Regions from separate parts of the Homo sapiens genome. Here region 2 is reported to be linked to region 1. The links are microRNA targets in miRTarBase. Many come from high-throughput screens and were not tested one by one. Region 1 holds a microRNA gene; the other region holds the end of a gene's coding sequence. Distances are between the middles of the regions.
What was found. Region 1 holds the annotated microRNA hsa-miR-6720-3p (CGCGCCUGCAGGAACUGGUAGA, at 1,666-1,687, opposite strand). A microRNA usually pairs through its seed, bases 2 to 8, with sites in the 3' UTR of a target mRNA and lowers its output. Matches are read on the target gene's strand: a 7mer-m8 pairs with bases 2 to 8, a 7mer-A1 pairs with bases 2 to 7 and ends in A, and an 8mer does both.

Region 2: the mRNA of ULBP3 is a reported target of hsa-miR-6720-3p. Seed matches in the 3' UTR shown: 8mer at 1,376-1,383.

The regions. Positions count from the first base shown.
Region 1 is chr6:1,388,659-1,393,035 of GRCh38, forward strand. It overlaps MIR6720 (microRNA 6720), which reads right to left and starts at 1,753; the gene lies at 1,656-1,753. FOXF2 (forkhead box F2) reads left to right here and starts at 918. Exons shown (of 2, transcript NM_001452.2): 1 at 918-2,460. The coding sequence starts at 1,290. FOXF2-DT (FOXF2 divergent transcript) reads right to left here and starts at 803. Exons shown (of 3, transcript NR_187218.1): 1 at 361-803. RefSeq lists an enhancer at 2,100-2,965.
Region 2 is chr6:150,061,050-150,065,426 of GRCh38, forward strand. ULBP3 (UL16 binding protein 3) reads right to left here. Exons shown (of 5, transcript NM_024518.3): 3 at 4,349-4,377; 4 at 3,536-3,664; 5 at 4-2,302. The coding sequence ends at 3,558. Among named protein-coding and RNA genes, the nearest start is that of ULBP3, 5.9 kb to the right of the region's middle.

The sequences.
Region 1 (4,377 bases):
TCAGGACTGACTATAAATATAGCCATCTCGCTTATCTCAGGGTCTTTCTTTTTCTTTCTCTTTCTTTCTTTTCTTCCTTCCTTCCTTTTTCTTTTGCACTTTTTTCTTACAGAACACTAACTGGGGTGCGGGGGTGGGGGGAAGAAGTGGAAGCAAATGCAACCCTAAGTCCCATGAGATCCAGGTTTCCAGAGTCTTTGAAACTTGGCCTAGGTTTCTCAGTGTAAATCCCTCTGCTCAAAGTTCCGAAAACGTCCACGATCGCCAGCGGCCCGCAACCCTGCGGCGGCCCCCAGTCGCCCTAACAATTGTCGGGGAGCCTGCAGGCCCTGCCAGAAAGAGAGAGGATTGGCACGTTACCTTTGGGCGTCTGGCACCCCGGCGTGTGGCTGAGGGCGGCAAAGTCTAAACGAAGTTGACAGATGGAGTCAGTATCGGCCCTGGGGAGGGCGGCCAGGGAGGCTCCGAGCAGCCGCACCCGCAGCAGCACCACTCGGCCCGGCGGGCCAGGAGGAGGAAGGGGGCGCGGAGGGGCGGGGCTGGGTCCTGGGATGGGACGCGGGGCTTGCTGCGGGGGGCAAACAGAAAGAATATTTCATGAAGTCAGAGGTGGTCGAGTTTTGCGAGGGGTGGGGGTCGTCCCCCTGGCAGAACCGGAGTGAGTCTGTGATCCCTCAATTGGAAAGAGGGTGAGTGAGGGAAAGGGGAGGAGGCCGCGAGAGGAATGAAGAGCGAGGAGACCCTGGAGAGCGGGGAGCGAGATAAGAGAGGGAGGCGGCCGCCAGGTCGGGAGGGGGAGGAGTGAGCGCGGCGGCGCGGAGCGAGGAGGGGGCAGGGCGGGGTGGGGGGGGAGGGAGGGAGGGAGGGAGCGAGGAGGGCGGCCGGGGAGGGCGAGGGAGGGAGGAAGTCCGAGAGACAGAGCGAGGAGCGCTCCTGAAGGGAGACGTCGGGCTCGTCCCCGGGGTCCAGGCCGCGGTCCCACTCGCGGGCGCAGTCGCCCGGCGCCGGCCGCTCGGCCCCGCGGCCTGGGAGGCCGTTGCGCAAGGCAGGGCCCGCGGCTCGGGGAGGGATGCGCCGGGCGTTGCCTCCCGCCCGCCGCCGCCGCCGCCGCCAGAAGCCCCAGAGGAGCTGAGGGAGGCGACGCCGAAGCGCTGGCCCGGAGTGGCCACGGCTGCAGCCCGGGCGGCGGGCTAGGGCGCTCGCAGGGCTTCTGGGCCGACCCCGCTCCGGCGCCTCCGCTTCCCGCCCGGGGCCCGCCCTCGCGGCCCGGCCTCGCTCCCGGGTCCCAGATGACCACCGAGGGCGGGCCGCCGCCGGCCCCGCTCCGCCGCGCGTGCAGCCCGGTCCCCGGCGCGCTCCAGGCCGCCCTGATGAGCCCGCCGCCCGCCGCCGCCGCCGCCGCCGCCGCCGCCCCGGAGACCACCTCCTCCTCCTCGTCGTCGTCCTCCGCCTCCTGCGCCTCGTCCTCGTCCTCCTCCAATTCGGCCAGCGCCCCCTCGGCTGCCTGCAAGAGCGCGGGCGGCGGCGGCGCGGGCGCCGGGAGCGGGGGCGCCAAGAAGGCGAGCTCGGGGCTGCGGCGGCCCGAGAAGCCGCCCTACTCGTACATCGCGCTCATCGTCATGGCCATCCAGAGCTCGCCCAGCAAGCGCCTGACGCTCAGCGAGATCTACCAGTTCCTGCAGGCGCGCTTCCCCTTCTTCCGCGGCGCCTACCAGGGCTGGAAGAACTCGGTGCGCCACAATCTCTCGCTCAACGAGTGCTTCATCAAGCTGCCTAAGGGCCTCGGGCGGCCCGGCAAGGGCCACTACTGGACCATCGACCCGGCCAGCGAGTTCATGTTCGAGGAGGGCTCGTTCCGCCGCCGGCCGCGCGGCTTCAGGCGGAAGTGCCAGGCGCTCAAGCCCATGTACCACCGCGTGGTGAGCGGCTTGGGCTTCGGGGCGTCGCTGCTGCCCCAGGGCTTCGACTTCCAGGCGCCCCCGTCGGCGCCGCTCGGCTGCCACAGCCAGGGCGGCTACGGCGGCCTCGACATGATGCCCGCGGGCTACGACGCCGGCGCGGGCGCCCCCAGCCACGCGCACCCTCACCACCACCACCACCACCACGTCCCGCACATGTCGCCCAACCCGGGTTCCACCTACATGGCCAGCTGCCCGGTGCCCGCGGGACCCGGGGGCGTCGGTGCGGCCGGGGGCGGCGGCGGCGGCGACTACGGGCCGGACAGCAGCAGCAGCCCGGTACCCTCGTCCCCGGCCATGGCGAGCGCCATCGAATGCCACTCGCCCTACACGAGCCCTGCGGCGCACTGGAGCTCGCCTGGCGCCTCGCCTTACCTCAAGCAGCCGCCTGCCCTGACGCCCAGCAGCAACCCCGCCGCCTCGGCAGGCCTGCACTCCAGCATGTCCTCCTACTCGCTGGAGCAGAGCTACTTGCACCAGAACGCTCGCGAGGACCTCTCAGGTAACGCAGCACGCTCCAGCCCAGCCAGCTGGGCGCACCGCTTCTAGGCCTCCAGGGCTGGCGGCCACTGCCACTCCCACAAACAGGGACCCCGAAGCTAGGAGGTCTGAGGGCACTGGGAAAAGCAGATGCTGGGGAAAGCCGGCATCTTATTCGTGGGAGCAGGGATCAGGGTCTTACTGTCCTCCCAGTATCCCTGGCCAGCAGCCGAAGCTTCAGAATTGTCTGGCTGCTGTGAGCGTGGTGTAAAGTCCCCTGCCTTCCTGGGCTCTTTGGGGATCCCTGTGCAGGAGACTGCAGGTCTCCCGTTCAGAGTCTCACTTAGCTTGGAGAGAAGGCATCTGGCCTTTGGGGAACTTGGTCAGGAAGCTGTGTCTAGTTCCTTTTGTCCCTTTTTTTCCTTGCGTTCATTTTGCTGTACTTCTGTCCCGAAGTAAATGTCAGAATCAGATATGTTCTGTATGTTGGGGTGTCTGCAGCGAGATGTTTGCAGCTGGGCAAGTGTTAAGAGGAGGGGGTGGGAGGGACAGAGCTGGATCCCAGGATCTTTCACTAAAGGGACATTTGCCAGTGGAGGGGGTCACCAAACTGTTGGAGACTCCTCCCCTTCCCTGCCTCCCCCCCCGCCCAACAATGGACCCACATTGATGATACAGGTCCTGGGTGGCAGGACCTGAAGGACCCTGCTAGGACTCCCCTGAGAAATGCGCCTGCCCTGTGGATGCCACTTGTAGTGTGGCTGGTTTACATTGTTCTGGTTGCAGATTATGAAAAATTATTGACTTGCTGAAGGCGGTGAAAGGTGGGAGGGGACGGTAGGGATGGAAGAGGGAATTTGAATATTTGACCAGGTTAATGTGAAGAACAGAGATAAACCCTTACATTAACCCCTCGCTCGGAGCACCTAGGGCTGCAGATTAAAATCCCATGGGCCTGCCAGTCAAAGGCAAGGCCCCAAGCTACTCTCTCACACTGGCCTCCCACAGCAATGAGACAGTGGCTTGGAGGGTGATGCATGCTTTATGTGTTCCTGAGCCGGTGTGCAGCGGGAGCACCCGGGGAGAAGGAAAGCCCAGAAATGGGCAAAAGATGTTGGTTCCCTGGACGGTGAAATTTCCCAAATAGGCCTTTTAAATGTGGGTCTCAGAGGTTAACCAAACAAAGACAGTCTCGGCAGGACCACACCGGAGAGGATTTTAGCCTGACTTAACCCACTGAGAACAGAGTCTTGTTCAATTTTATGGGAATTTCAACAAGTAACCAATACAGGCGGCCTTCCCCTCTTATTTTTGTATTCCCTTGGACCGGCTGTCAATCACACACACACACACACACACACACACACACACACACACACACCCCTCGGTGCACTGGCCCCTTCCCTTCCCCGCCTGCCTGCTCCTCTCCCAGCCTGCCAGCTGCCCTCCCTGCTCCCCTTCTTCTCCTCTCCCGGCAGATCCACTCAACTTGAACCCGGACTCTGAGGCTTAGCAGCCTTGGAGAAACCGTACTCTAGGAAGAAAAAAAAGCACACAGGAAAGAGACTCCTGACCCTTCCTCAAGGCTGCTCTCGCCCCACCTCATAACACTGGGCGCAGGCACAAGCTCCCAAAACTTCGGAATCTGGATACATTACTGTCTTGGAGGGGGTGAAAACTGCCCAGCAAAGCAAGCCGGCCTCTGTGCCCCTACCCAGCGGCCTCCCGCGGCCGGCCTTCCCTGGGAGCCTCGCAGAACCCCCGACCGAGTCTGGGAACGCCCGGGGGAGACAATAGCTCGGGCCTGACGCCCGACAGGGACCCTCTGCCCTTCCTTCCTCGCTGTCTTGCTCCCGTCCCTATAGGATACCCACCCGGCCCTGTTGCCATCTCCCTGGAGCGCCAGCGGTGGAGGCTTCGGAGGAGCCGGCCGGATGCA
Region 2 (4,377 bases), 150 Mb from region 1:
GTATAATTTCATTATGCAGTGTTTAATTTTAGGGTTTGGCACTTTCACGTATAACTTTTATACAATTATCATCATATACAACTTACGATTATTTTAAATGACTAGAGTTTAGTTTTTGATCTGGGTTAGCGTTCATAGTGCAAAGTTCTCTCGTTCCACTCAGTTAACCCCATTTTTTGGAGGGCTCTATGTCATTTTATTTTACTTACGAATCTTTAATTTTAACCTTTATTATAGATTAAAGGGTACACATACAGGTTTGTTACATGGGTAGATTTTGGAAGGCTGAGGCTTGGTGTCCCAATGATCTCATCACTCAAACAGTAAGCATGGTACCCAACAGGTGGTTTTTCAGCCCAGGTGCCCCTCCTGTCTCACCTGTCTAGTAATCTCCAGTGCCTCTGGTTCATGTGAATTCAATGTGTAGCTGCCACTTTCCAATGGGAACATGCAGTATGTAGTTTTCTGTTCTTGCATTAGGTTGCTTAGGATAATAGCCTCTAGTTCCATCCATGTTGCTGAAAAGGACATGATTTTGCTGTGTTTGGTGGCTGCATAGATTTCCATGGTGTTTATGTACCACATTTTTTTCATTCAATTCAGTGTTGCTGGGCACTTAGGTTGATTCTGTGTCCTTGCTAGTAAGAATAGCACTGTAATGAACATATTGGTGCAGGTGTCTTTTGGATAAAATGAATTCTTTTCCTGTGGATATATCCCGAGTAGTGGGATTGCAGGCTTGAATGGTAGTTCTATTTTAAGTTCTTGGAGAAATCTCCAAACTGCTTTCCATAGCGGCTGAACAAGTTTGCTTTCCCACCAACAGTGTCTGTTTCTTTTCCTCTGCAGCCTCACCACCATCTCCAACTTTGTGACTGGTAAGAGATGGTAACTCATTGCAGTTTTGATTTGCACTTATCTGATGATTAGTGATATTGAGCATTTTTTCACGTTTGTTGGCCACTTGTATGTCTTCTTTTGAAAAGTGTCTGTTCATGTCTTTGCACATTTTTTAATTGGGTTTTTTTTTCTTGCTTGTCTAATTGTTTAAGTACTTTGTAGATTCTGGATATTGGACCTTTGTCAGATGCAGAGTTTGCAAATAGTTTCCCCATTCTACACGCTGTCTGTTTACCGTGTTGCTAGTTTCTTTTTCTGTGCAGAAGCTCTTTAGTTTAATGAGGTCCCATTTGTCAATTTTTGTTTTTGTTACAATTGTTTTTAGTGTCTTCTTCATGAAATCTTTGCCAGGCCCTATGTCCACATTGGTATTTCTTAGCTTATATTCCAGGATTTTCACAGTTTTATTACCTGCGCAACATAGGAAGACCCAATCTCTACCTAAATATAAAACAATTTGCCAGGCATGGTGGCATGCGCCTGTAGTCCCAGCTACTCTAGAGGCTGAGTCTAGAGGATCACTTGAGCCCAGGAGTTGGAGATTACAGTGAGTGATGACTATGCCACTTCACTCCAATATGGTTGACAGAATGAGAAAATGTAAAAAAACTATAATGATAAAAAGGATTAATACAATTCTTGGTCAGTGCATGGAAAGGATCCCTGAGGTCTGAAGTCCTGCATGCTATTTTACTAGCAATACCGTTTCGAAGAATAAGGTCATGCTTCAGAGAAATGTCTGCTTTTCCACAATCAAAGAAGTAGAAAGAAAATGCCTTTTGCTGGGATTTCTTGTTCAGTTAAAACTTGTGCAGGAATTCCATCCATTAGCACCGAGAGAAAGTGGCAGAAGGTGTTAAGAAAAATGGCTGGCCGGGCGCGGTGGCTCACGCCTGTAATCCCAGCACTCTGGGAGGCCGAGGCAGGTGGATCATGAGGTCAGGAGATCGAGACCATCCTGGCTAACAAGGTGAAACCCTGTCTCTACTAAAAATACAAAAAATTAGCCGGGCGCGGTGGCGGGTGCCTGTAGTCCCAGCTACTCGGGAGGCTGAGGCAGGAGAATGGCGTGAACCCGGGAAGCGGAGCTTGCAGTGAGCCGAGATTGCGCCACTGCAGTCCGCAGTCCGGCCTGGGCGACAGAGCGAGACTCCGTCTCAAAAAAAAAAAAAAACAAAAAAAAAAAAAGAAAAATGGCTGCTGGGATCATGAGCGAAGGTAATGAGTGGCCTGAGATGTTGAGCCGACAATGTCCTCATCATCTGCTGGGGGCCTCTGGGCTTGCTAAGGCTTGAACTCCTGCTTTCCAGAAAGGCACAGTGGTGAGTAGACAGGCGGCCTCCCTGAAGGGAGAGCAGGAACCAGACCAGGCTAACAGAGGCTTCTTGATATCACCTTCCACCTTGAGGAAAGATGAAGCATTGGTTTAAGTGGCTGAGAAAAACCTGGGTCTGTTCTCCTGGGTGATCCTTCCCAGGCCCTCCCCATTTCAGAGCTTCTCCCCCAGATAAGGAACATGTTTTTCCCTCCAACCCTACCCCTGGCTGTGCAGCCTTTCCCAACCTCCACCCTCCTTCACCACACCACAGAGGCAGCCCAGGTCCTGTTACAGCCCATAGGGGCTCAGACCTGAGGCTGGTAATGAGGGGTCTGCACCCTCACTCAGGGCCTGCTCCTCCCTTTCATAGAAGGGTCTAGAGGACCTGGGGGAGCCCTGTCCAAAGAGAGGTCTCTGGATCCATGTTCCCTGGCCTTGGGTGGGTTTGTAGGCAAACCTTCTTTCTCCTTCGCTCTCAGCCTCTCCTCACCCTGGGAGCTGCACCCATAGCTCTGAATGGGACTGTCCCTGCCCTGCCCCATTCATTCCTGGCCAAGCTCAGTGGTGACCACGGACCTCTAGCAGCAGCTCAGCTGCCCTAGCTGAGTCCACTCTGCTCCAGGCAGGGCCATCAGCTGGCTCAGGATCTGGAGTGTGCACGAGGCAGAATGGCAGTGGCATCGTCCCAGGGCCTAGCCAGGAATCCCATGGGTCCAAGGGGCTCGGCCATTTCCTAAACCTCATCCTGGACACGCTCTACTCTTCACCTTCCACCTTAACTGCTGGGACTCAAGGTGCTCTCTCTGGGAATGCAGCCTTAGGAACTGGGTGGGCCAAGGCCCTCACAGCCCCCTCGTCCTGGGATTCCCCCAGGTTTCTCTCTTCTTAGCCTCCTCCAGGGACACCCCTTCCCTTGACATCCTTGGTGAAGTGGCCATGCTACTCCTCTCCTACTGTGCAGACTGCCCATGCCTGAGTTCCTGCTGCCTGCAGGCCACACACCACTACCCTTCCCAGATAGAAACCTGCTGTGAAATAGGCCTGAACTGTCTAAACCCTCTTGAACTCAACCGGCCCTGAGCCTTGATATGGGTCCCTCCCTTTCCCTCTGGCCCTGATGGTGAGAATCCATCAGAACTCAAGGTTGAGCTGCCCAGGTCATTGCAAACAGGCGACACCAGGTCTCATTCACCTGTCTCATGTCAGAACGAGAAGGTCCCGGCCATGGGGAGAGGTGGGACTCTGGAAATTCTCCTTTCCCTTCCTCCCACCTCACCCATCTGTCTCTCGTTCCCCTCACAGTTTTGCCCACAGTACCTGTCACTCTAAATGACTCTTCTCAGATGCCAGGGAGGATGAAGCAGAGGATGATGAGGAAGCTCCAGGGACTGAGGGTGGTGGCTATGGCTTTGGGTTGAGCTAAGCCTGGGGCCATGGTGGGTGGTGCTGAAAGGGAAACACAAAAGTGACAACTCTTGTCCACGCTCCAAATCTGAGGAGATGGCTCCTTAGCTCCTGCTACCCCAGGTCATCCGGGAAGGCAGAGGATTTGTCTCCCCTGCTGTGGGGCAGCCGCTGTGACAGGTCCTGGGGGTAGGAAGGGAGAAGGGGTGCTCCCTGTCCTCAGGGAGCTCACACAGCTGCTGAGGGAAGCAAGGTGACAGCACAGCCCACCCTCCTGCTGTGGCGGAAGAGGAGGTGATGCCCTAGGGCCGGGACAGGAGAGTCTCGGGGCTGCCATTCGAGGTGGTTTTGATGGATTTCCAGAAACAAACCAAGGGAGAGGAAAGGAAAAGTGATCCTAGGAGGAGGGAAATCTAAGGAGAAAGGTCTAGAAACACAATGACGCCCACAGTTTTGAGGCTGGTGAGAAATCCACAGTGAGTGGAGCAAAAGCAAGTGCAGTGAGGAAGAGGAGTCAGGAGGGAGAGCATAGGCACCCCAAGGAGGAGGCCCCCATGAGGGGTTCATGTTCTTACACTCACTCAAACACACACTCACACTCACACATACATAGACTCACACCCACTCACACCCATACACCCACACCCACCATACTCAGACACTGACAGACAAGGGTGTAACTCGATGGCATCTCCAACATGCTCCCAGTGCTCCCCTGTCAGTTACCTGTGGGTTCCAGCCTCTTCTTCCTGTGC